Homo sapiens: one gene and its partner. The protein of the gene in region 1 purifies or fractionates together with the protein of each later gene. This does not show direct contact. Each region holds a gene or a part of one and is shown in the gene's direction. Other genes may lie near its edges.

The links.
Region 2: the proteins of DCX (region 1) and NMNAT3 purify together in Homo sapiens (affinity purification with mass spectrometry; 3 studies listed by BioGRID and IntAct, with this or other methods). This does not show direct contact.

Annotation. Positions count from the first base shown.
Region 1 is NC_000023.11:111,391,677-111,403,956, reverse strand, and holds part of DCX (neuronal migration protein doublecortin), read left to right. Parts: intron 1-2,626; coding exon 2,627-2,967; intron 2,968-12,280. UniProt on the Homo sapiens protein: Microtubule-associated protein required for initial steps of neuronal dispersion and cortex lamination during cerebral cortex development. May act by competing with the putative neuronal protein kinase DCLK1 in binding to a target protein.
Region 2 is NC_000003.12:139,622,626-139,634,905, reverse strand, and holds part of NMNAT3 (nicotinamide/nicotinic acid mononucleotide adenylyltransferase 3), read left to right. Parts: intron 1-258; 5' UTR 259-295; intron 296-7,141; 5' UTR 7,142-7,181; coding exon 7,182-7,290; intron 7,291-12,280. UniProt on the Homo sapiens protein: Catalyzes the formation of NAD(+) from nicotinamide mononucleotide (NMN) and ATP. Can also use the deamidated form; nicotinic acid mononucleotide (NaMN) as substrate with the same efficiency. Can use triazofurin monophosphate (TrMP) as substrate.

The DNA of each region.
Region 1 (12,280 bases):
CTCCTTCCTCAGCCTCCCTAGTAGCTGGGATTATAGGCATGTGCCACCACGCCCAGCTAATTTTTGTATTTTTAGTAGAGATGGGGTTTCACCATGTTGTCCAGGCTGCTCTTGAACTTCTGATCTCAAGCGATCCACCTGCCTCAGCCTCCCAAAGTGTCAGGATGACAGGCATGAGCCGTCGCACCTGGCCATGGGTTGAACACTTTTTATCCATCATCTGATTTGTGCCCCACAACAACCCCACAAGATAGGTATTCTTATTATCACCCTTGCTTTGCAAAGAAGAAACTGAAGCCAAGGGAGGTTAGAGTGCACAACTAGGAAGTGTTGGGGACCCCATCCTGACTGACATCACATCAGCTGCGCTTTTTCCATTACTCCATATTCAGCCCAACGAGAGAGTGGAGTGACTAAAATGTACCACTGGAAGGTGCTCAACATAGATTTGGCTGAGGCTGGGCCCTCTGGAAAGTTCTTGGGTGCTATATGATACTATAGCTGTCAGTCATCATGTTCATTTTCATCTGGAGACGGTTAATCATACTCATACTCCAGAGGCTTAAGAGGTTTAAGAGATGGGAGCAAAAAAGTCCAAAGTCCTAATAGGGCTACACAGCTGACTCTCCAGAGGAGACTGGATGAGTGAAATCATAAATATATAGCTTCACACATTTCCACACCACCATTTGTCTGACAGTTTTAAAGTACATGACAAGTTATGGAAAACATCTGACTCAAAGGCAGTGACCTCCTGCAAGGTGCCAGTGAATCTGGTGAACTGCTAAGTCAAGAGACCATTTCTAGGGTTATGGGGGTTATTGGCTGTGAATATATGGAGACACTAAAAGGGCCCCTTCCTTCATCCTTTTAAGTCAAAAATTAAAGACCCCAGCCTATAATTACTTGGGTTGGGTTGAATTAACCAGCAAGGGAGTCAAAGAAATCAGAGCTTCTCTTGGCTGAGGTATTGACCATCTCATCCTGGGTGTCCATGTATGCACCAAGTGGGTAAGGGTGCCTATCCTCACTTAAAACCATCCCTTTGTCCCCCTGTCAAGATAGAACTCTGGGACTGAGGGCAGCTTTGGAAGTCACTTTGCTTATGTTGGATGCCACTTACCCTCCCCCTCCGCACACACACACACACACACACACACACACACACACACACCACGCACACACACACACACATACACACACACATAAATGTCCTCAAAGGTACACTAGAGATTTTGACTGAAACTTCTCTTAGCATTACTGAGAAATTTATTCATTAACATGTCTTAAAGGATTTGGTGCTATGGCAAAGCAATAAATATTTGCAAAGGGAGTGAATTATCAACCTGGTGTTTCTGAATGCAGTTCTCCTGCTGAGACCAAAGGAGAGCCATCAGACTATAATTGTGTTTAATGCTTTCTGTGCACTGGCTAGGGTTTATTTATTTATTTAGGGTTATTACCGATGACTTAAGCCTGATTAAATCACACTGTTTCTGCAGCTCAACCTCTCAATGAACTTCTAGATACCTTGAGGCTAATGTGTTTTACTCAACGAATTCAACCTTTTCCAGTATTCTCTTCCCCAGGCTGAGCCTATCTCTCTTCCTATTTTCTTCAGCTCATAGTCCCAGGTGTCCAGTCCCCTCCTCTTGCCTCTGATCCCTGCATTTCTTTTGCGATATTAGTCATTTCCTCTAGCCCAAGGTAAATGTGAAAATTACACTAGATCCTTCCAATCCATAAATCAGGCTGTATAATGTATTCTCACTTCTTTACCTCATTACTTGTGGCAGCCAAGGGTGAGCACTGGTGAAGATGACCCTGAATACACAGATCTTATGTGCATCCTTTGAGAGGATGGAAAGATGAAGGGTGAGTGGTAGAAACATGAGAGTATTTTTCAAGCAAAAGCTAAGGTGTTTATATGTACTGGTTGTTATTTAGACAGTTTCTCTACCTAGTGTAGCATAAGGAGTAGAGGACACACTTATACACACATATAAACATTCAACATATGCACACACATTTCACATTTCAATATTCCATACTTGGCCATATACTCTGTGCAAAGGATGACCTGGTTTCTTATCAAGTATGTATGTATGCCTGATATACAAGGTTACTTGGTTCATTTTAACTTGGCATAAAAATGTTTTAACTTTGAAAGTTTTCCTTGGTTCATAATATCACAAAGGGATGGGACTTTGAGTCCAAAAATAGGACAGGGATTTTAAGAAATAGAAATGTTAAAAATTCTCCAGTAATGCCCCTGAAAGCTAAACATCCTAGAAACTAACATAAATGTTTAAATTCCAGAAAAAACCATATCAAGCTTGGAACTCCACTTGTTATATTAAATTTAGATATGCTCTTTGTCCTTAGAACCCTTAGCTTTACAGAGTTCTTCAACTAGGTGTGTCATTATATTGAAGGATGTTTTGAGAATTACTCTTGAATTTGGATGAGCCAAGTTTTTAGCCCAATTAGGAATTGCACCTAAGGTTGGTTAGTATCACCATTTATTGAAAAGTTCTACTCCAGTGTCAGTGTGTATTAGTTTGGTTAGAATAATCCATATATCTGCTATTAAACTAATCACCTAATCACTTATTTCTTGCCTTAGGGGAAAGCTATGTCTGTTCCTCAGACAACTTCTTTAAAAAGGTGGAGTACACCAAGAATGTCAATCCCAACTGGTCTGTCAACGTAAAAACATCTGCCAATATGAAAGCCCCCCAGTCCTTGGCTAGCAGCAACAGTGCACAGGCCAGGGAGAACAAGGACTTTGTGCGCCCCAAGCTGGTTACCATCATCCGCAGTGGGGTGAAGCCTCGGAAGGCTGTGCGTGTGCTTCTGAACAAGAAGACAGCCCACTCTTTTGAGCAAGTCCTCACTGATATCACAGAAGCCATCAAACTGGAGACCGGGGTTGTCAAAAAACTCTACACTCTGGATGGAAAACAGGTAGGTACTTTTTCAAAGTACTTTTCCCGTTTTTTCTAAATTCTTAGATGATCATGTTATACCTAAAATATCATTTCTTGTTGACGGACTCTTCCTCCACATCTCATCATCACAACCTGATATTATAGGTTTCATTTGGAGAAAAGGTATTTTTAGCAGGCAAAGCAATGAATCAGGAATCTGAGGCTTTGAAATTCAATCTGCTTCTGATTTACCATGCAGAAAGGTCACTTAGCCTCAGCTTCCTTATCTGCTATGAAAGATGTGTTAGAACCTAGGTTCTATGAATTCTTATGAATATGAATTTAGCTATTATATGATGCAACCTTCATTGTTCAATACATGTGACTGAAAATGATATTTGCCCATTCATTACTTTTTAGATACCCTCACATTGATGCTCAGCATCTATTTTGATAAAAGGAAGTTGAAGTGACCTTCATATGCTCTGAAAGAAGTCAGATACGGGGAAAGCACTGAAGCCTCTGGCTCGTTGTCTTTGCCTCACACTAAACCATATTTATTCTCTTTCTCTTTTCCATATGACATAGCTGTCTTAATTTGGTTCCACTGATGGTTTGTGTGAGAAAGGGACTATTTCAGGATCCTAAAATTAGCCCAAGAAAGATGCTGCCATCTGTTCCCCCTCCAAATCAGGTTCTTCATGTCATTGGTTATACTACTAAAGTGCCACCTATATTAATATCTGGGAAAGAATGCAGCCAGGCGTCTCCATCAGACAGATGCACCATTCTCTTAAGCATAGGGAGCTGTAAATATACAACAAAAATGTTCCAAGGGAATTGGAACAGTGGCTGGTTCTGTTGGCTCTAAAGAGAATTCTGGTCTCCCATCAGAAAAGACAAGTGTGGATTAGTATCAGTCCATATATTCTACCTCTTAAAATGCCTTTGGTGTTTAAACAACTATATAGAAAAGGTATTCCTAAAAGGCGGATTCACTATATATCAAAGTTACTGATGAGTGTTCAAATGCAGACCTGTGCCTCCTCCTATAATTTCTGATAGTAATGTGTGCTCCAAGATTTTAAGTTTCAGGGAAAACTCACCCAGGTACTGTGTACTTTGCAATTTTGAGAAATATTTGGCTTTGTTTCCCATCATTTTGCGATCTGAGAGCTACCTGGACACATTGGTTATACCTGACTTCTGTTTGTTGTACTGAAGCAATGGGTTTGTCTGTGATGTTGGGAAAATCTCCAATTCCCAAGCATTTCTCTAAGAGTGTCTATCTTCTAAGCACCATGTATGTAATAAACAGGAGCTGTCTAAGTATAGGCCTGATTGCCAAAGCCTCATCTCAGAGAAATAGGACATAGAAAGTTTAGAATCATTGGATCACAGAGTTGAGAATGACTTTAGAAGCCATGACATTTAATCTTCCACCTAAGGCATGGATATCCTCTACAATCACTCTATAAGACTATAAGACAGCCTATTTCACTGTTCAACAGCTGTGATTTTTAGAGTTTCTTTATATTAGGCATAAATCTGATTCCCTGTGCCTTCAGCCTTCTGAAGTAATATAGGAATATGCAAATCAAAAACATAAGACTGGGATTAAGAAGATTTGGACTTTAGTCTTGATATTGTCACTTAACCACTTAACTGTCCTGAACCTCACACTCCTTCTCTGTACAAAAGGACTGATCACACCTGCCCTGAGCATGCTCACAGGACTCTTATGAGGATTAAATCAAATAATGGATATGAAAGCACTCTGTAAATTGACACATGGATGTATATATATATATATGCATATAATTCATCATTAAATGAGATTTATGGCAATTTTCATATATTAATAAATGTTAGCTCTCTTTCTCCTACTTTATTTATTTATTTATTTACTTTTGGAGTCAGAGTCTCACTCTGTCACCCAGGCTGGAGTGCAGTGGTGTGAATTTGGCTCACTGCAACCTCTGCCTCCTGAGTTCAAGCAATTCTCCTGCCTCAGCCTCCCAAGTAGCTGGGACTACAGACGCACGCTGCAATACCCGGCTAATTTTTTTGTATTTTAGTAGAAACGGGTTTTCACTGTGTTGCCCGGGATGGTCTTGAACTCCTGAGCTAGGGCAATCCGCCCACCTTGGCCTTCCAAAGTGCTAGGATTATAGGCATGAGCCACCATGCCTAGCCTCTTCCCCCTACTTTATCTCTATCATTCTTATTATAAATTTCCAACATTTGTGAATATATACCATGCCTTGGCATTCTGCTTTTGTTCCAAATAATATATAAAGGGACACCTCCATCTCCTAGGGAAGCAAGCTCCAGTCCAGTGATGCATAGGGTTTTGTCCTACAGCAGGCCATGCAGAGTGGCAAGCTCTCTCAAACTCCTTTAAACATCAGTTCCCTTTCTTTGGGGGACATATTACAAAATACCAGCATATGATATGACATTCATATAGAGAAATAGAGTGGTGCCCAGTGGATCTGAACCATGCCCTTTCAGGCATCTGTACCTCTGTATATACATTCCCTTTCTTTAAAATGTCTTCCTCTGCCCACCCTGACCCCTGGAGGTCATCTTATAAGACCTGGTTCAAATATCACTTTATCTTTGAAAATTTCTGTCTCTGCTAAGGAGGGTAAAAGCAATCCAAACCTTTTTTTTTTTTTAATTAATGCTAAGCTCCTGGTATATTATGGATGCTCTATAAATGTTTTTTGATTGAATGAACTGACATAAACAGATTCTCAGATGGCCCAGGTAGATGTTTTGAGGACCCATCTTTCAATTCCCCAGACATTATCCTTAGGTCTTTCAGAAGAGATAGGGGGCCTCCAAAGGAGTGCATATTCCACCAGGTGGCTTCTATCTGGTGGTTTACTTGGAAGTCACTGAGGGCAGACATTTAAAGCAACATTTCCCTAAATACATTCTAAGGAGAAATGTCTCCATGTCCCCACCCCAAAAAGCTCTCCAAAGAGAATTCTGTGGGCAAATAAGGTTTGCCTTATTTGCAGTAAAATGCTGCAAATTGTGTGCCATTCTTAGAGATTCCAGTGCTCACTGGCACATTGAATGCTCTGAGAAGTTCTACAGCAAGGAAATCCATCCCAATCCTACTTAACCACAAACATTTTTAATGAAATATACACACACACATACTCACACATACATATATGTATATGTATGTATATATACACACACACATATATGTAGATATACACACACACATATATGTAGATATACACACACACACATGCACAGAGTGCACTAGAAAATGTTGTTTACATAAAACACTGATAATTAAGAACTAACTACCGTAACTTTAATGGTAATATTGGTATGCACAGGGTGACCACAAATTAAACGTTGTTTTGTTACAGCAAAGACATTAAATAAAATTTGGGGGTACATGGACAAACCTACTAATTACAAAATAGATGCTGGGTATAGTGAAAGTTGGTGCCAAATTCAAAATTTTGGAGCTCAGCTCATTTCCCAGGTCTGGTGATGACAGCACTAAAGTTAACACCTGTCAATCACTTTGATTATTAGTGGGTATTCGTACTGCTTGCGAATATAATCTTTTTTGTGGAGGCTGAAGTCACATGTATGGCAATAGCTTGACTTGCTTGGATGAGATTCCAATGCATGTTTTTGGCTATACGTGACACAAGGCACTTATTTGTAAAGAACAAAGTATGGTCAAGACTATTTGTTATGGAATGATTTATTCATGAAATCAAGGCCATCGCTTGATTTCAGTGTTCACTATAACTGGATTCCAAATCGACCAAACCAGGTGGTTTTCCCTCTTCATATAAATAATGATCAGCTAAAAGAGCCCAGTTGGTTATTGCAAATTTATTGTTGCTTCTGTAATTGTGTGTATCATTTGACTGATTGGCTCACACTGATTGACAAGCAATCTGCAGACATGGCTCATTTCTTTCTCTCTGTTTTTATTTTGTTTGAATGTGTCTTTTAGAGCCCTTGATCTTTCTAGGGCTTATGTTTGATGTTATAGAAGTTTGGTTTCCTGACCTCTTGCCTCTGAGATATTTGGGGTCTGTGTAGACAGGAAAGCCAACCACCACTAGTAGGAAGACACCCCAATTGATTCCTCACCTCAATAAGAAGTTATTAATGATATAAGAAGTAGTTGGTAGGGCTCTGGCTACTCCCAGGGATTAAAATGGACTTCTAGGAGGTCAAAGAGGACATGATAGAGGATTGGATGGTGATGCATATTAGTTCACTTGCAGGTGAAAATTGTTCTTTTGATTCCTTGGCAGCTGGAGTGGTTGTGGAGTGTTGACAAAATTATCCAATTATTAATTTCCATAACTAAAGTACACATTGACTTTCATGCATAAAAGTGATGGATACATAAAAACTGGGACCCAAATTTCTGGTTCACATGATAGTAGTAGTTTAATAGATACATGTTCTGGCCTTAAAATTAATTGCAGAGCTTTAATAATAGACTTCCAGCTTTTTGGCATCATACACAGTGGTGCAGCTGGTCTTCACAACATCCATTTTCATGCTACACTGATTGACATCTCTAGATTCAGTTTTGTCCACACCCAGAATCTGTGCAAGTGAAGATTCATTATTGCCTCAATATACATGCCTAAGACATAAGTATGGCCTTTAGTGCTTGTTCTAGCTTTGTTAGGCCAATTTTCAATTGGAAGGATTTATTTTATGTTTTTGTCTGTACCTTTATAGCACCGACTACTTGGATCTGGGATTACAGGTCTCAGAATAACAGAGGAGAGGTTTAAGCCGATTCCAAGATTATCCATAGCCTTGGAAACTAGTACAGGGGTTTTAAGGAAATGGTTGATGCATAATACACAGATGAGAGCATGAGGGATGTTTCAATTGCTGCTTAGTATTCTAGGAAAGACTTGCCCTTTCCACGTTGCCATACAAAAGAACTGGGTGCTGTAAGCACAAAGGCAATTGCAGGAAACACAGCAAGACAGATTGGATTTAACCTTGGAAATGTTGAATGCACTTACCAAGGTAGGTGTGTTTTTCCTTTGCCTACATAGCCAGTTTTTCTCTCCCCTGTTATCTCTGCTTTCCCAAGTAATATCTGATCTTATTTATACTCCCTGGCCTCCGGCTCTCTCAGAGCCAACCTCTCTCTTCTCCTAGTGTTATGACCCTGTCAGTCAACATTGGGCTCATTAGAAAAGGCCACATGGGCATAAATTATGCCTCAAGAGGGAGGTCATTTATCATTGGCCTTCACTTGAGAAGATCAAGGCTGGAAAGTTCATGTTTTTATTACCAAAATTCTCCTTCTCCAACCTTTCAGAGGTTCCTAGAGAAAGGCTTTGGGAGGATTGGCTTGAGCATGAAGTGAAATAGAACAAAGGTGAAAAGCCAGGCTGGGCTCTGTGAAAGGAGACAGTTTGCAAACTACCATGTCATATGTGGTGGTAGATTTCACACTTTAAAAGAGTGGCCAAACATCAAATATACTGCCCTTCTGGAAAGAAAAGACTAAGTGTAGCCTGGTGATCAGTTATTTCTTCAGTAATTTATCCTCTTAGAGTTTTATTGTTGTTGAGATGCTCCTGGCTCTGAGCAGTGACAGAGGTGTGACTTGGCCAATTCAATCAAAAGCTTTGGCATAGAATTCCAGTCTCTTGTGCTGACTAGTCTGTCACTGTCTAGCATTCAGCAAGTGGAAAGAGCCCTAGGCTGGGATTCAGAGGCCTGAGTTTTAGTCTTCACTCTGTTCTTCCCTAGCTATGTAACGTGGAGCCAATCACGTCTCTTTTTGGGCCTTAATTTTTTAAGGAGCCTTAGTATATGACCTGTAAGAGTCCTTCTAGTTCCACAATAACAGAGTATCCACCTCATAGTGTTGGTTCTGTCGAGACATGTTTTCACTCTTCTGAATGTACTCTACCTCTCTATGCTCCTAAGGATTGCCAATGTGATGTCGTACTTACTTTGGTGGATACATTGCTTTCCAGGATGGCCTCTAAAAGGTATTTGCATAATTCTTATATTCAGATCTTTCTTGCTGCCTGCAATGACATCACCAAAGAATATTTTCAAACTTGTAATTTTCGTTTGACCCCCTTTTCTTTACACTGTGGATGGTATAAGGAGCAGAAGGCAGAGGACTCACAAAACAAAGCAAGGCAAAAGCCAGCCTGCTAAAATTGTGGCAAGTGTTTGACAGTGCCATTATTAAGCTATTTATATCACAGTGGTGCTATTTTCAGTGCTAGGGAAGGATTATTACTAATGGGGGTGGTTAGCACTGGTGCTAAATGCCTTGCTATTTCTTGAGTAGACTGAAGAGATTCATCAAGTGGGGATTGATCTATCCAGGGATGCAGGCTGTTCCATTTAAAACTGTTGAAGCAATGGTCTTTTTGTTCTTAGTTCTTTATTTTCATCTGTTTCATTATTGTCATTCCCTCAAAGTGGGAGAAAAAGCATTGTCTCCAAAAACAGTTTTTAAAAACAGCTTTATTGAAATATAATCCCCACATTATATATTTCACTCATCTTATGTATAAAATTCAACAGCTTTTAGTATATTCACAGAGGTCTGCATCCATCACCACAATCAATTTTAAAATACTTTGATTATCCCAAAAAGAAACGCTGTACCCTTTAGACATTGCCCTCTAGTTCTCCGATTCCACTTCCCCATCCCTAAACAATCACTTATCTGCTTTTTGCTCTATGGATTGTCTTATTCATGACATTTAATAATAATGGAATCATGTGGCTTTTTGCACCTGGCCTGCCTGACCTAGCATAATGTTTTCAAGGTTCATCCATGTTGTAGCATATATTGGTACTTCATTTCTTTTATGTGTGAATAACATTCTATTGTATGGATTTACCACACTGTATTTAGTCATTTATCTATTAATGGACATTTGGGTTGTTTCTATCTTTTGGCTATTGTGATAATGCTACTATGAACCTTCATGTACAGATTTTTATGTAGATACATGTCTTCATTTATCTCGGGTAAATATCTCAAAATGGCATTGCTGGGCTGTATAGTGTGTTTAAAATTTTATGAAACTGTCAAATGGTTTTCCAAAGTGGCTGCACCATTTTCCATCCTTATTCGTATTGTATGAGAGTTCCAGTTTCTTCACATCCTCACCAACACTTGTTATCTTTTTTTTTTTATTAGCTCCATCCTAGTGGGTGTGAAGTGGTATCTGATTGTGGTTTTTCTTGATTTGTTTGCATTTCCCTAGTGATTAATGATTAATGATATCACACATATTTTCACATGCTTATTGGACAATTGTATATCTTCTTTGGAAAAATGTCTGTTCAGATCATTTTCCCATTCTTTAATTGAGTTATTGGGCTTCTTATTAATGAGTTGTAAGAGTTCTCTATATATTCTAGATACAAGTCCTTTGTCACATATGTGATTTGCAAGAATTTTCTGCTAGTCTGTAGCATGTCTTCATTTTCTTAATGGTTTTCTTAATTTTTCAAGAGAAAAAAAGCTTTTATTTTGATGAAGTCTGATTTATTAATTTTTCTTCTATGCATTATACCTTGGGGTCATATCTAAGAAATCTTTACCTAACCCAACATCTCAAAAATTTTCTCCCATGTGTTCTTTTAGAAGTTTTATATTTTTAGCTCTTAGATTTAAATCTCTGATCCATTTTGTGTTAATTTTTGTGTACAGGATAAGAGTCAAGGTTCTTTTGGGGGAGGGGCACATAGATATCTGATTTTTCTAGCACTATTTGTTGAAAAGAAAAGATAAGACAGTTTTCTTAATTTAAATTAAATATGAACAGTGGTTCATATAGCCGAGTCCTCTGAAGGTTTTTAGAATTTCTAAGAACTGTGGGTGTGAACTAATGTAACACAGGAGCTTCTCCTATGCAGATGTTGTGGAACAGTACTCTACTCTACAATACTCTACAATACAAGTACTCTACAATACTCTAAGGCTGTATCAGTAAGGCTGGCTTAGTCTTATTTTGTAGGGAAAAAAGAGGTCTTGATAGGAGAAGCTAAAATGGGCTATTGTTCCTTGACAGTGCCCTGCCATGTTCTAGACTCCTAGAGTTCCCACCCAGACCTATCTGAACTTCCCTGTCAAATATCCTATACACTTCTGGTGATGCTAAACAGGATTGGGGGAGGGGAGTAAGGAGATGTCCAAAATTGTTGGGGTTATTTTCTTTTGTAACATCTTGAGATATAATTCACATATCACATATTTTGCTTATTCAAAGTGTACAGTTCAATGATTTTAATATGCTCACAGATATGTGTGACCATCACCAAAGTCAATTTTAGAATATTTTTATTACCTCTCCTACCCTCTATCCCCCACAGCCCTAAGCAACCACTAATCTACTTCATAGTTCTATAGATTTGCCTTTTCTGAACATTTTGTATAAATGAATCATATTTTATGATTCATGTATATATGCTAAGTGACTAGCTTCTTTCACTTAGCATAATATTTTCAAGGGTCATCTATGTTCTGTCATGTATCTATCTGTACTTTGTTCTTTTTTATGGCTGAATAGTACTCCATTGTATGGATATACTACATTTTGTTTATCCATTCATTTGTTGATGAACATTTGGGTTGCTCCATCTTTTGCCTATTAATAATGCTATTATAAACATTTGGGCATGATTTAGGTATAGACATATATTTTCATTTCTCTTGAATATATATCTAGTAATAGAATTGCTGGGTGTTGAGGTTTCTTGATGTTCTGTCCCCCAACCACCAAACTCATGTTTCTAAAATATGTACCCCAAGGCATGCTCCAAACAAAGAAATTCACAATCTTTTTTTTCTATGTAGATATTTGTCCCCCAGAGTTCTTTCCTAAACAATATAGAAGGAAACATGAAGGTTTCTTTATTAACTTTTCTTAAAGCTAGAACAAATCCTAAGAAGCTATTTTCTTGTTCTTTTTAATCTGAGTTCTACCTTGGCCCTCCTAACCTTCCAGAATCAAAGATGCATTCTAAACAGTTGGGACCTTCAATCCAGTGGGTCACAGATTCTCCCCCAAACCACCAAAGTTTCTTATTTTGAAAAAGGAACAGAAAAAGGAGCTTCTAGAATTCCAGTCTATCAATTTTTCCTAGATTTAGAATACTTTTATAATCGATACCACATATTCTACCCTCTTCAGGTCTTGTGATGTTAGCTCATGAGATAAAAAACAACTTGGGTGTAGGGAGCCACAGCAGGTCTTCATCATTAGCCCAGTTGTCATCGACCAGGACAATTTGCTGTCCAGGGGACACTTGGTAGATATATTTTTGGTTGTCACAACTAGGGA
Region 2 (12,280 bases), on another chromosome or scaffold:
ATTGATGTGTGTGAAGTTTTTAGCACAGTGCCTAGCCTATTACTCAATAAACCCAGTAGTAGTTACTCAGACGTACTTTATTGTGGCAATTGAAACTAGTCCCAAATTATGAGTATGGCATTGCAAGAGATCTCATTCCACGCCTTGTGCTCCTTCAAATCTTTTGAAATTTCTCGAAACTAAAGAGTGGGCTGCCTGCTTTCCTGGGAGTCTCATAATTAGGATGAATGCTTAATTGACATGTTTGTTTCCTCCAAGGGGTGGCTGGCAGAGGATCCTTACACCGACAAGGAAGGTATGCTTTGCTTTTGTTTTTAGCAGCATTGTGTGCCCGTAGCAACAGCGGGTTAAAAAGAAAAAGTACTGGAGATCGCATGAAGGTTGATTGCCCTAGAGAAGTCGACACGCTCACACAGATGGAAATGATTTCACCGAGTCCTGAAAAATGTGGTCGTCAGCCCCACATACAAACCACGACTTGTGTTTTCTTTAAGATGAGGAGTCTGGTCAAGAGGTCTGTGTAATAAAAGATGTTTGTAGAATCCATTTCCATTCTGCCTGAAGCCATCTGCTTTATGTCTATAATAAACAGGGATGTTTTCAGCCACTTTCCCGGGCCTGGGCCCGTTACAAATGCTCACCGCAGGGAAAGGTAAATTGACTGCCTCCCAAGCGATGAGCATTTGCACGTTACATCTGCAGTGACGGCACTTAACCTTCCCGGGTCGCCTTCCTTACTGTGCCTCCGCGACGGCCTGTGACAAATGGGCTGAGGGGTGCACACTAGGTTAGAACTTAATACACATGGAGTATTGGCCAGCATCACATTACGTGGTGAGCCAAGTGAGATGTGAGCAGGCGGAAGAGGCCATATTCCAGGAAGATGGAGGCCGTCTGACCTTCTCCAGCCAGAAAGACCTGAGGGCAGCTGGGGCCGTCCTGAGACTTTCTGATGTACCCACTGTCCCTGAAACTTGCGGATGCACTTGAGTGCTCTTTCTGAAACACAGACTGAGCAAGTCACATCCCTGTTTAAAATCGTTCAGAGGCTTCCTCCTTGCCCATAGGATAAAATCTAAACTCCATAGGCACCCAGGGTCCCTCGTGATCCTTCCACTCTCTGCAGCTTCATCTTGAGCCACTCACACATCAGCTCCTGCCTACACGTGAGCCATACTGACATCTTTCAGCTCACCTCCCACCTTCAGCTGCTGTGTCTAGGCCTTCGCAGCGCTGTGCCTTGTGCCTGACACAGTATTCACTATCTTCCCCAGCATCTCAATTCCCTCTCCATTCTTGCTTTAGCTGGAAGGTCCCTTCTGACAGCCTGCCGCTAAAAAGATGGGTGTTTTAACTTCCTATGGCTGCTGTAACAAATCACTGCAGCCATAGGAAACTAATGTGTGGCTTAAAACAACACAAATTTGGCTGGGCACAGTGGCTCACGCCTGTAATCCCAGCACTTTGGGAGGCTGAGGCAGGCAGATCACCTGAGGTTGGGAGTTTGAGACCAGCCTGACCAACATGGAGAAACCCCGTCTCTACTAAAAATACAAAATTAGCAGGGCACAGTGGGACGTGCCTGTAATCCCAGTTACTCAGGAGGAAGAGGCAGGAGAATCACTTGAACCTGGGAGGCAGAGGCTGCGGTGAGTTGAGATCGTGCCATTGCACTCCAGCCTGGGCAACAAGAGCAAAACGCTATCTCAAAAAAAAAAAAAAAATCAAACAAAAACACAAATGTATTCCCTTCAAGTTTTGTAGGTCAGAAGTTTAAAATGAAGGGGTCCGCGTTCCTTCTAGAGGTCCTGGGGACAGTCATTTCCTCGCCTTCTCCAGCAGCTAGGGGCCGTTTGCATTGCTTGGTTCATGGCCCCTTCCTAGCACCTCTCTCTTCTCTGACGACTGCTTCTTTCACACATCTTCTTTCTCTGTTTAGCCCCGTTGCTGCCCTCTTTATGGGGGCCTTCATGATAAAACTGAGTAATCCAGGCTACCCTCCTCATTTCAAGATTCTTTATGTAATCACATCTGTAAAGTCCCTTTTGCCATGTAATATAACATATTCACAGGTTCCAAGGATTAGGACACGGTCATTTTCAGGAGCCAATTATTCAGCCTCTTGCAGTGAGGTGTTAAGCCCTGAGCCCTGATCCCTTACCCTGGGGGTTATTGCCTATTGAATTGTCCTTCCCATAGATGACTGGAAGCTCTTTGAGGGTGAGGGCTGCATCTGCATTGCCTCCTATTGCATCCTACTGTCCAGTAGAGGGCCTGGCCACTAGTAGATGCTTAATAAGCAGTTGTCCACTGAGTAGATGGCAGTCAGGGCAGTGCCAGAGACCAGGCTGTTGTAGAGAAACTGGACGGACTCTGAAAACCAGTGCAGTGAGCAATGTCTAGGCAGTAAAATCTGGAAGGAATTGTCTGGACTGTCTTGGCAAATGGACAGCCATCAACCTCCAGTTCTGTAGGGCAGAGGGATGACCTTGGTGTCAATGTGCAGGAGGCCAGCATATCCCTGTTGACAGGATCATGGTGGTAAAGAGGGCCCAATAGGCAAGGATGTCTTTTTTAAGTTTCAGATTGAGTCGGGTGAAGTGGGGCTTTGGGGAGGGATCTTGTGTGCCTTCAGGGAGCCAGAAAGTTCACTTTATATCTCTGGAAGGCTCATTCCATTGACTGGGACAGAACCAAAGAGAGGAGGTAGACATCTGACAAAAATACTTGGTCAGGGATAGACACTGACTCTGTTGTTCTTTCCACACACATTTCCTGAGTACCTATTGGTGCCAGGCACAGTGCTAGGAGTTGAAAGGACCAAGATGAATTTAAAAACCACTCTCTAATCACTTGAGCCCAGGAGTCTGAGGCTGCAGTGAGCTATGATTATGCCACTGCACTCCAAACTGGACAACAAAGTGGGACCCTGTCTCTTAAAAAAACAAATAAAAAATAAAAAACCTCTAAGATATTATCTTCCACTTGGAGAAGAGCAACATGCATTAAAAAAATGACAGTTCTCTGGTGAAGAAACAAAAAGGTGATAAAATATGTAACAAGTACAGAGTTAGCATGGTGGTGAGGGCAGTAGGGGGGAGGTAAATATTCCAGGGAGAAAACCTTGAAGGCAGATCATCAGGATGGCGTTTCAGGTGGTCATGACTGCTTTTGCAGAAGCAGCATGTTGTGCTTGAGGAGTGGGATGAAATGCTGTCTAGATGACTATGGAGTGGGAGGCAGTAAGCTGGGGAGGGGGCGGGAGCCAAAGGTAGAACCTGTTTGCCTTGTCTCCAGTTTAATGATAAATTCCAACAAGCCTGTACACCACATTCTCAACTTGTTAAATCCTTCAGCTGCAATTATCACTCTCTGGCCTCCATTAAATGCTTATTGATGAGAAGCCTTCCCCAATAGCAGAAGTCTCCCTCACTTGCTCCGTCTCACTAGATATTATTAGATGATAAGGGCAGATGGGACACTTTTATAGCATGCATCTTGCCTTGTGTCTGATGAGATTTGCACTCAAATTAGAGCCAGTTTATTGTCCTGGTGGATCCCTGGAGTGATTCCATTTTAGCCCTATCACTGTATTTCGCTGGGTTTGGCTTGGGAGGGTACTTAGTTGAAGCAAATTTGAGTGTACACATGGTACAGGTGCACTGACCCTGTTACTGATCCTGGGAATGTGCACTCCTGTGTCCTTCAGCCTGCGATATGGCCCAGACATAGCACAGTCACCACTAGAACAGTGTGGCTCAGTATGCCCACAGCAAAAAAAGAAAGAGAGGCACTTATTAAAGGTCATTTATTCTCCTTCTCAGCATCACACTTCATTGCTGTTGATGCCACCATTCAAACAAATTGTTCTAATTTATAGTTTCTGGGAACTTTTGGAAAAATGGATGAGAGCCCCAGGTTACCTGAGATGCTGTTACATATTTTAATGGTGCTAACAATGTATATTTTGTCAAAATGAAACAGGATTTTGAAAGACTTCATAACAGTTGTAAAAAAAAAACAGCCACCTTTTCAGATACAGTCATCACGAGGCTGCTCTTGTGAATAGCTTGGCACACTTTGCAAATATCTCATTAAACCATCCAACCTCCCTGGGAAAAAGCTAGCAGCAGCTTGTTGACTGCTTTCTTCCCACACAGTTGGGGGTATTCCTGCTGCCTCAAAGGAAGTATGGAGAGACCACGGCCCGCCTAGGCTGAGAGCTTTTCATCTTCACACTGTAGCTCAGAGTACATGCCCTCCAGCCTGCCAGTGCCCTGTTTCAGTCTTCACTGATCCCTACTCTGGGCCAGGCTCTGTGCTTCGAGCTGAAATCCCAAGAAGGAGAAAACACCACTTCCCTTCCTAAAGGGTTTACTGTCCAGTGGATAGGAAAGACACATAAGCAGGCTTTTTCAATAAAATGTCGCTTGTGGTTTATTAAAGGTAAGTCAGAGATGAGTTAACCTAAGCTAGATGTCAAAGAAGCCATCTCAGCAGCCTTCCACCCTCCCAAGTCCCAGACACTTGTATCCCCAACTCTGTGGCAGCCACAGTGAATTAGTTAATCCAGTTTCCAATCCCCTTTCCCTTACTGTTCTCACTGGAGAGGCTGTCAAGCTAAATAGATGCCTTTTCTGGCCTCTGTTGTAGCTACAGTGGCCATGTAACCTAGTTCTGGCCAATGAGACAGAAGCAAAATCTACAGGAGGTTCTAAAAAAGCTCTTGTGTTCTTGATTAAGAGGAATAGCCAATCTAGTACAGCTTCTTGCTCCTCCTTCTTGCCTTTATTGAGGTTATGATGTGACCATGAGACAGAAACTGAAAGAATTGTAGGTCATTGTTGAGCCCATGATTTCATGTCATTAGGTGCCTACTTCCAGACTTTTTGTCATGTTAGAAACAAATGAACCTCTCTTTGTTTAGACCACTGAGGTTAGGCTTCTGGTATTTGCAGCTAATATATCCCTAACTGATATAGGTACCTAGCAGGTAATTGATAAATAGTGATGAAGTAATAAATAATGTGATCATATGAATTGGATCTTAACATATTGGGATGTGCCGGGGGGTTTTCTGGTTGGAGGAAACCAAAATAGCCTGTACAGAAGGTTGAAGCAGGAAGCCATGAAGATCTCACAAAGAAGTCCTAATAGGTAGTTCATTGTTGCTAGAATATAAAGTAGGAAACTGGATGAAAGCCTGGAGAAGGAGATAACATGGGCCAAATTGAAACAGTTTCCTTTGATATAAGCAGGGTCCCAGGTTCCTGTGACTGAGCACTCTACATGTTGCCCCCAGAACTGCAGGATTACAGCTAAGACCATCACAGCAAGATGAATAATAAAGGCAATAAATGCATTCCTCCCATTGGTTTCTGTATTATCTATTACTGCATAACCAATTACATCAAAATGTAGCAGCTTAAGATAACACATTTATTTATTATTTTTATTTATTATCTCACAGTTTCTGTGGGTCGTGAATTCAGATATAATTTAACTTATAAAGCCTATCTTATAAAGCTTCAGTCAGTGTTCGCAGGGCTGCAATCACATCTGAAAACTTGACTGGGGAAAGATCACACCCACACTCATGCACATAGTTTTTGGCAGATCCAGTTCCTCACTGGCTGTTGGCCACCAGAGGTCTCTCTCACTTCCTGGGCCCATGGGCATCTCCACGGGGCAGCTCACAACCTGCCTGCTGGCTGCATCAGGGTGAGCAAGTAAGAAAGCAAAAGAGGTGAGCAAGAGGGAAGCCAGGGGCCTTTGGTAACCTTATCTCAGAAGTGGTAACCACTACTGCTGTATTCTGTTTGTTGTAAGCAAGTTTCAGCCTATACTTAAGGGATGAGATTACCAGTGAATACTAAAAGGATCATTGGGAGCCATCTTAAACACTGCCTACCACAGACACACCACCATCTCCTTTCTCCTCCTGCTCCATTAGGGTCAGCAGTAGCAGCACCTTTCTCACCATTGTCATCATCATCACCACAGCCACAGTGATTATTTATTAAATGCTTCTTACGTATCAGGCACTTTCCATATGTAACTATCCTCACTATAACCTTGTAAGAGTAAGTAACATTATCCCCATCTTGCAGGTTAGAAACCTGAGGCTCAGAGAGGGTCTGTGATTTGCCCTAGGCCTCACAGCCAGTGAGAGGTAGAACTAGGGGTCAACCAAGTCCCACCTCGAGGAGGCAGCATCTCAGAGGCAAGAGAGCCGTGTCTGCCAGCCTGCCCTGGAGCCTGGGCTGTTTCCTTCTCACCTTTAACCTCAACAGGGTGAGACCAGAGGGTGGGCTGCACCCTCTCAAAATGCTTGGGCCCCAGATAAAGGACAATAGGTGAGATCAGAATACAGTCTGCACATTAGATAATAGTCCAGTAACAATGTTGGTTTCCTGATTTTAATCATTGTTCTGCAGTTATGTAACAAAGTGTATTCATTCTGAGAAAACACATACTGAAGTATTTAGAAGTAAAGAGATTTTATGTCTATGACTTACTCTCAAACATTTCAGAAAAAATATTTATAAACAGGTATGTATGTGTGTGGAAAGAGAGTGATAAAGCAAGTGTGGTAAAATGTTAACATTGGGGAATCTGGATAAAGAGTATAAAACATTTTGTATAAATTTTGTAACTTTTTTCCAATAAGTCTGAAATTGTTTCAAAATAAAAAGTGTTTTAAAAGTGCTAATCTACTCTAGGACCTTGTGAGATCTATTAGGACTACCAGAGATGGCACTACGGGAGTCTTCTAGCCCTCCTTCTGACCCCGTGGTGATCTGTCAGAGCTCAAGGAGGATATAGAGGTTCAGAATAGAACATGGGTTCTGGGATCAGGCTGCCTTGGTTCCAGTCCTGGCCCAGTAGCTTCTAAGGTCCCTGAGCTGTATGAGTAACCACTCAGGGTCGTTAAAAAGGACTTGGCAAGAGAAGGATACGCCTTGGCATAGCACTTGGCATACTTCATGGCCCATGGCCAACCCTCCTTAAACGTTGTTTTAATGGCCTCCTCAGTCATCTTACAAGTGAGAAGTAATGGTCTGTGTGTGGTTTAGAGAGACTGATCTGGATAATTGTCTCAGTGCTAACTCCCTGACATGAGCTTTTGTCCCCATAAAAGCAGGGTGGCCACTGCAACAGGTGTGGATGTGCCTGACAAGATGAAGAGCCGAATACCTGTGGTGCTCCTGGCCTGTGGCTCCTTTAACCCCATCACCAACATGCACCTGCGCATGTTTGAGGTGGCCAGAGATCACCTACACCAAACAGGTCAGTCAGGGGGCCCTGAGTCCAACAGAAGAACTGGTGGGTTAGGCTTCATGGGGCTTTTCTGGCTGCTGGCATCACTATTATTAAAACAGCTCAATTTATTCACAGCATAACTAGTGGCATATTTTTTTCATCATATTCAAAGGGTTGATGCTTATAGTCTTGTGACATATGTACAAGTCATACCCCTTGCCATAGAGCTGAACACATCTCAAGGTCTCCCCTCCCTGCCCACCTCACATTGGCAATGAACGACAACAGGCCCTCTACAGAACCTGTGCCACAATCAGGGCATCCTTCCTGGTACTCCCAACATCTACCTACACAGCCAGATGAATAGGTAGCATGTGCCTTAGAAAGCTCCTGATACTCTTCAGAGGGTAAGAAAATGCTTGATAATGGGCATTTTGACATTTTCTCATTTTAAAGAATAGATCTTAGATTATTACAAATTAATAATCTTGTATATAGGGCATTTCCAATACAGATGGCATGACTTTGACAGGAATATTTAATCAGCTGGAAATATATAATCTGAGGATATTTCACCTGCTTGACTTTCTATTTCATTATTAAAGGAGTAAAGTGACATTTGTAATCTGCATGATTGTTTCTAAAGAATATAAATAATGTATCTGTTGCTATCGAGTATATATGAAATTATTTACTTGTATATTTATGAATGTATTATGTATTCATATATGTATTTTGTGTTTCTATATTGTTTGTAAAAAGTTTGCCTTTAAGGACATTGTTTTTATACCAGAATCCATCCCTATTTACTTTTAACATAGCAAAAAGTATTTGAGTAACATGGAAATTATTTCTTCAAAGAAATAATGCACAAGTATTAGTTCATTTTAAAGGAAATGTCTTTATTTTAGAAACATATTTTTATTGAAAAAGTAAAAGTGATATCCTATTACTACCAGTAGGACTGTACTGGTAGTAATAGGATAAATTTTGAGGACAATTTGGTGTTCTGTGACAAAAGATTTAAAGTCTCTACCCATACTCAGAACAAAGAGAAAAATGAACCAATGGAAACCAAACCAGATTTGATGCAGATATTAGAATTAGCAGACAAAGACTTGAAAACAATTATTATAATTATGTGCTATATATTCAAGTTAAGTAGAGATATGGACAATATAAAAGGACCCAAGTCAAACATCTAGAATTAAATACTACAACCTGTTAGATGAAAAATACACTATAAAGAATAAAAAACAGATTAGACATTACAGAAGAAAAGATTAGTGAACTTGAAGATGTAATAATAGGAACTATCTAAAAATACAGGAAGAAAAAATTTTAAAAAAGAAAGAATAACAATGAGATACGGGAAAACTTGAAGCAGCTTAATATACTTGGAATTGGAATCCCAGAAGGGGAAAACAAAGGAAGAACTAGAAAAAATATTTGAAGAAATAATAACTGAAATTTCTCCAAATTTGATGAAAACCCACAGATCCAACTATCTGAACAAACTCCAAACACAAGAAACGTTAAGAAAACAACACTGAAAAATATAATAATCAAATCTCTCAAAAGCAGTAATAGTCAAAAGCAACCACAGAACAAAAATAAAGATGACAGCAGACATCTTGTTACTGAATTTACCAAAAGAGAATTTAGTGTAATAGCATTGTTAGAGAACTGAAAGAAAATACTGTCGACCTAGAATTCTATATCCATTCCATATCTGGCAAAAATATCTTTCAAAAACGAAAGCAAAGTAAAGGCATTTTCAGATATTCAAAAGCTGAAAGAACTCACCACCAGCAAACCTGCACTACAAAAAATGCTAAATTCTTCAGGCAGAAGGAAAATAATACCAAACAGAAGCATGGACCAACACAGGAATACAGAGCACTGGAAATGGTAACAACATAGGGCAATTATATAAGATTTCTTATTGATTTTCTTTAAAAGGTAATTAACAGTTTAAATAAAAATAACAATACATTGTGGGATTTATAACCTATGTAGAAGTAAAATATATGATAACACTAGAATAAAGCTGAGGGGGTAAAAGGGAAGTATACATAAAGTGGTATAACATCACTTAAAGATAGACTGTAAGAAGTTAAAGGTATGTTTTAAACTCTAATGCAACTGCTAAAATGAAGCAGTTATAGTTAATAAGCATACAGAGGAAGTAAAATAGAATTGGAATATACTCAGTTAATTCAAAAGAAGAAAAAGAAGAAACAGGGAACAAAAAACAGATGAGACAAATAGAAAACAACATAAGAGATTTAAACCTAACTATATCAATAATCACATTAAATATAAGTAGCCTAACAACTTCTGCAAAGAGGCAGACTGCCAGATTCAATAAAATAAGCAAGACCCAACTATAAATAAGAAGCATACTTTAACCATAGTAACCCAAATAGGTTAAAAGTAAGAGAACAGAAAACTGTCCTATGCTAACACTAATTAAAAGAAAGCTGAAGTGGCTATAGTAATACAGAGAAAGTAGATTTCAGAGGAATGAATATTACGTGGGATAAATAAGGTCATTTCATAATCACAAAGGGGTTAATTCTTTAAGCAGAAGTAATACGCTTTTTGCACTTAGTAATATAACTTCAAAATACATAAGAAGCAAAAACTTATAGAATTGCAAGGAGAAATAGACAAACCCACATTTAGAGTCAGCTATTTTAATGCTCTTCTCAGTAATTAATAGAATAAGCACACAGAAAATTAATAGAAGACTTGAACAACACTATTAAACAATTTGACCTAATTGACATTTATAGACCACTGCATCCTACATCACAGAATACACATCCTTCCCAAGGGCACACAGAACATTTACCAAAATAAGCCATATTCTGAACCATAAAAGAAGTCTCCGCATGGCGCGGTGGCTCATGCCCGTAATCCCAACACTTTGGGAGGCCAAGGTGGGTGGATCACCTGAGGTCAGGAGTTTGAGACCAGCCTGGCCAACATGGTGAAACCCCGTCTCTACTAAGAATACAAAAATCAGCCAGGTGTGGTGGCACACACCTGTAATCCCAGCTACTCAGAAGGCTGAGGCAGGATAATCGGCTTGAATCCGAGAGGCAGAGGTTGCAGTGAGCCGAGATCGTGCCACTGCACTCCAGCCTGGGGAGTGCAGCGAGACTCTGTCTCAAAAAAAAAAAAAAGTCTCAATAAATGTAAAAGAACTGAAGTAATACAAAGTGTATTCTCTGACCACAGTGGAATTACATTAGAAATCAATAACAGAAAGATCTCCGAAAGATCCCCAAATATGGAAATAAAATAACATACTTTGAAAAACTCATGGGTCACAGAAGAAATCAAAATGGAAATTAGAAAACATTTTGAACTCAATGAAAGTGAAAACAATATATAAAAAATTTAGGATGCCACTGAAATAGTACTTAAGAAGAGTTTTATAGCACGAAATATTATATTAGGAAAAAAAGGTCTCAAATCAATGATTTCAACTTCCACTTTAATAAACAAATGAACAGATGAAAAACAAAATAAGCAGAAGAAAACAAATACAATAATTTGCCACACTATGACATTTTAGCAAATAACAGACCATATGTATGACAGTGGTCTGATAAGATTGTAATGGAGTTGAAAAATTCCTATTGACCAGTGACGTTATAGCATCGTGGCTCAAGGCATTACTTGTGTTTGTGGTGACGCTGGTGTAAACAAACCTACTGCATAACTAATCATATAAAAGTCTAAAAAGTCTAGCATAGGCCGGGCATGGTGGTTCACACCTGTCCAGCACTTTGGGAGGCCAATGCAGGCAGATCAGGAGGTCAAGAGTTCAAGACCAGCCTGGCCAAGATGGTGAAATCCCATCTCTACTAAAAATACAAAAATTAGCCAGGCCTGGTGGCACGCACCTGTAATCCCAGCTACTTGGGAGGCTCAGGCAGGGAATTGCTTGAACCTGGGAGGCAGAGGTTGCAGTGAGCTGAGATTGAGCTACTGCACTCCAGCCTGGGCGACAGAGTGAGACTCTGTCTCAATCAATCAATCAATCGACCAATTAAGTCTAGCATATACTATTATATACAGTACATAATAATTGATAATGGTAATAAATGACTAAGTTACTGATTTATGTATTTACTATACTATACTTTTATCCTTATTTTAGAGTCTATTTCTTCTGTTTATTTAAAAAAAAAGTTAACTGTAAAAGAGCCTCAGGCAGCTCCTTCAGAAAGAATTCCAGAAGAAGGCATTGTTATCATAGATGACAGCTCCATGCATGTTTCTGCCCCTGCAGACCTTCTAGTGGGACAAGATGTGGAAGTAGAAGATGGTGATATTGATGATCCTGATCATGTGTAGGCCTTGGCTAATCTGTGTGTTTGTATCTTAATTTCTAACAAAATTTACAAAGTAAACATTTAAAAATAAAACTTACAGGATAAGGATATGAAGAAAAATATTTTTATACATCTGTACAATGTTTGTGTTTTAAGCTAAGTATAATTACAAAAGAATCCAAAAGTTTAAAAAGTTGTCAAGTTTATAAAGTAAAAAAGTTATAGTAAGCTAAAGTTAATTTATTATTGAAGAAAGAAAAATATTTTTAAAAATTTAGCGTAGTTTAAATAAACAGTGTTTATAAAGTCTATAGGAGTCTACAGTAATACTGTAGTCCTTCACATTTACTCACGCCTTGATTCACCCAGAGCAACTTCCAGTCCTGCAGCTCCATTCATGGTAAGTGCCCTATAAAAGTATACTGTTTATATATATATATATATAATATATATAATATATATTATATATCATATATACATTTTATATATATATCATATATATCATATATATATCATATATATGATATATATGATATATATACACACACACTTTTTTTTTGAGACAGAGTCTTGCTCTGTCACCCAGGCTGGAGTGCAGTGCCATGATCTCAGCTCACAGCAACCTCCACCTCCCATGTTCAAGCGATTCTCCTGTCTCAGTCTCCCGA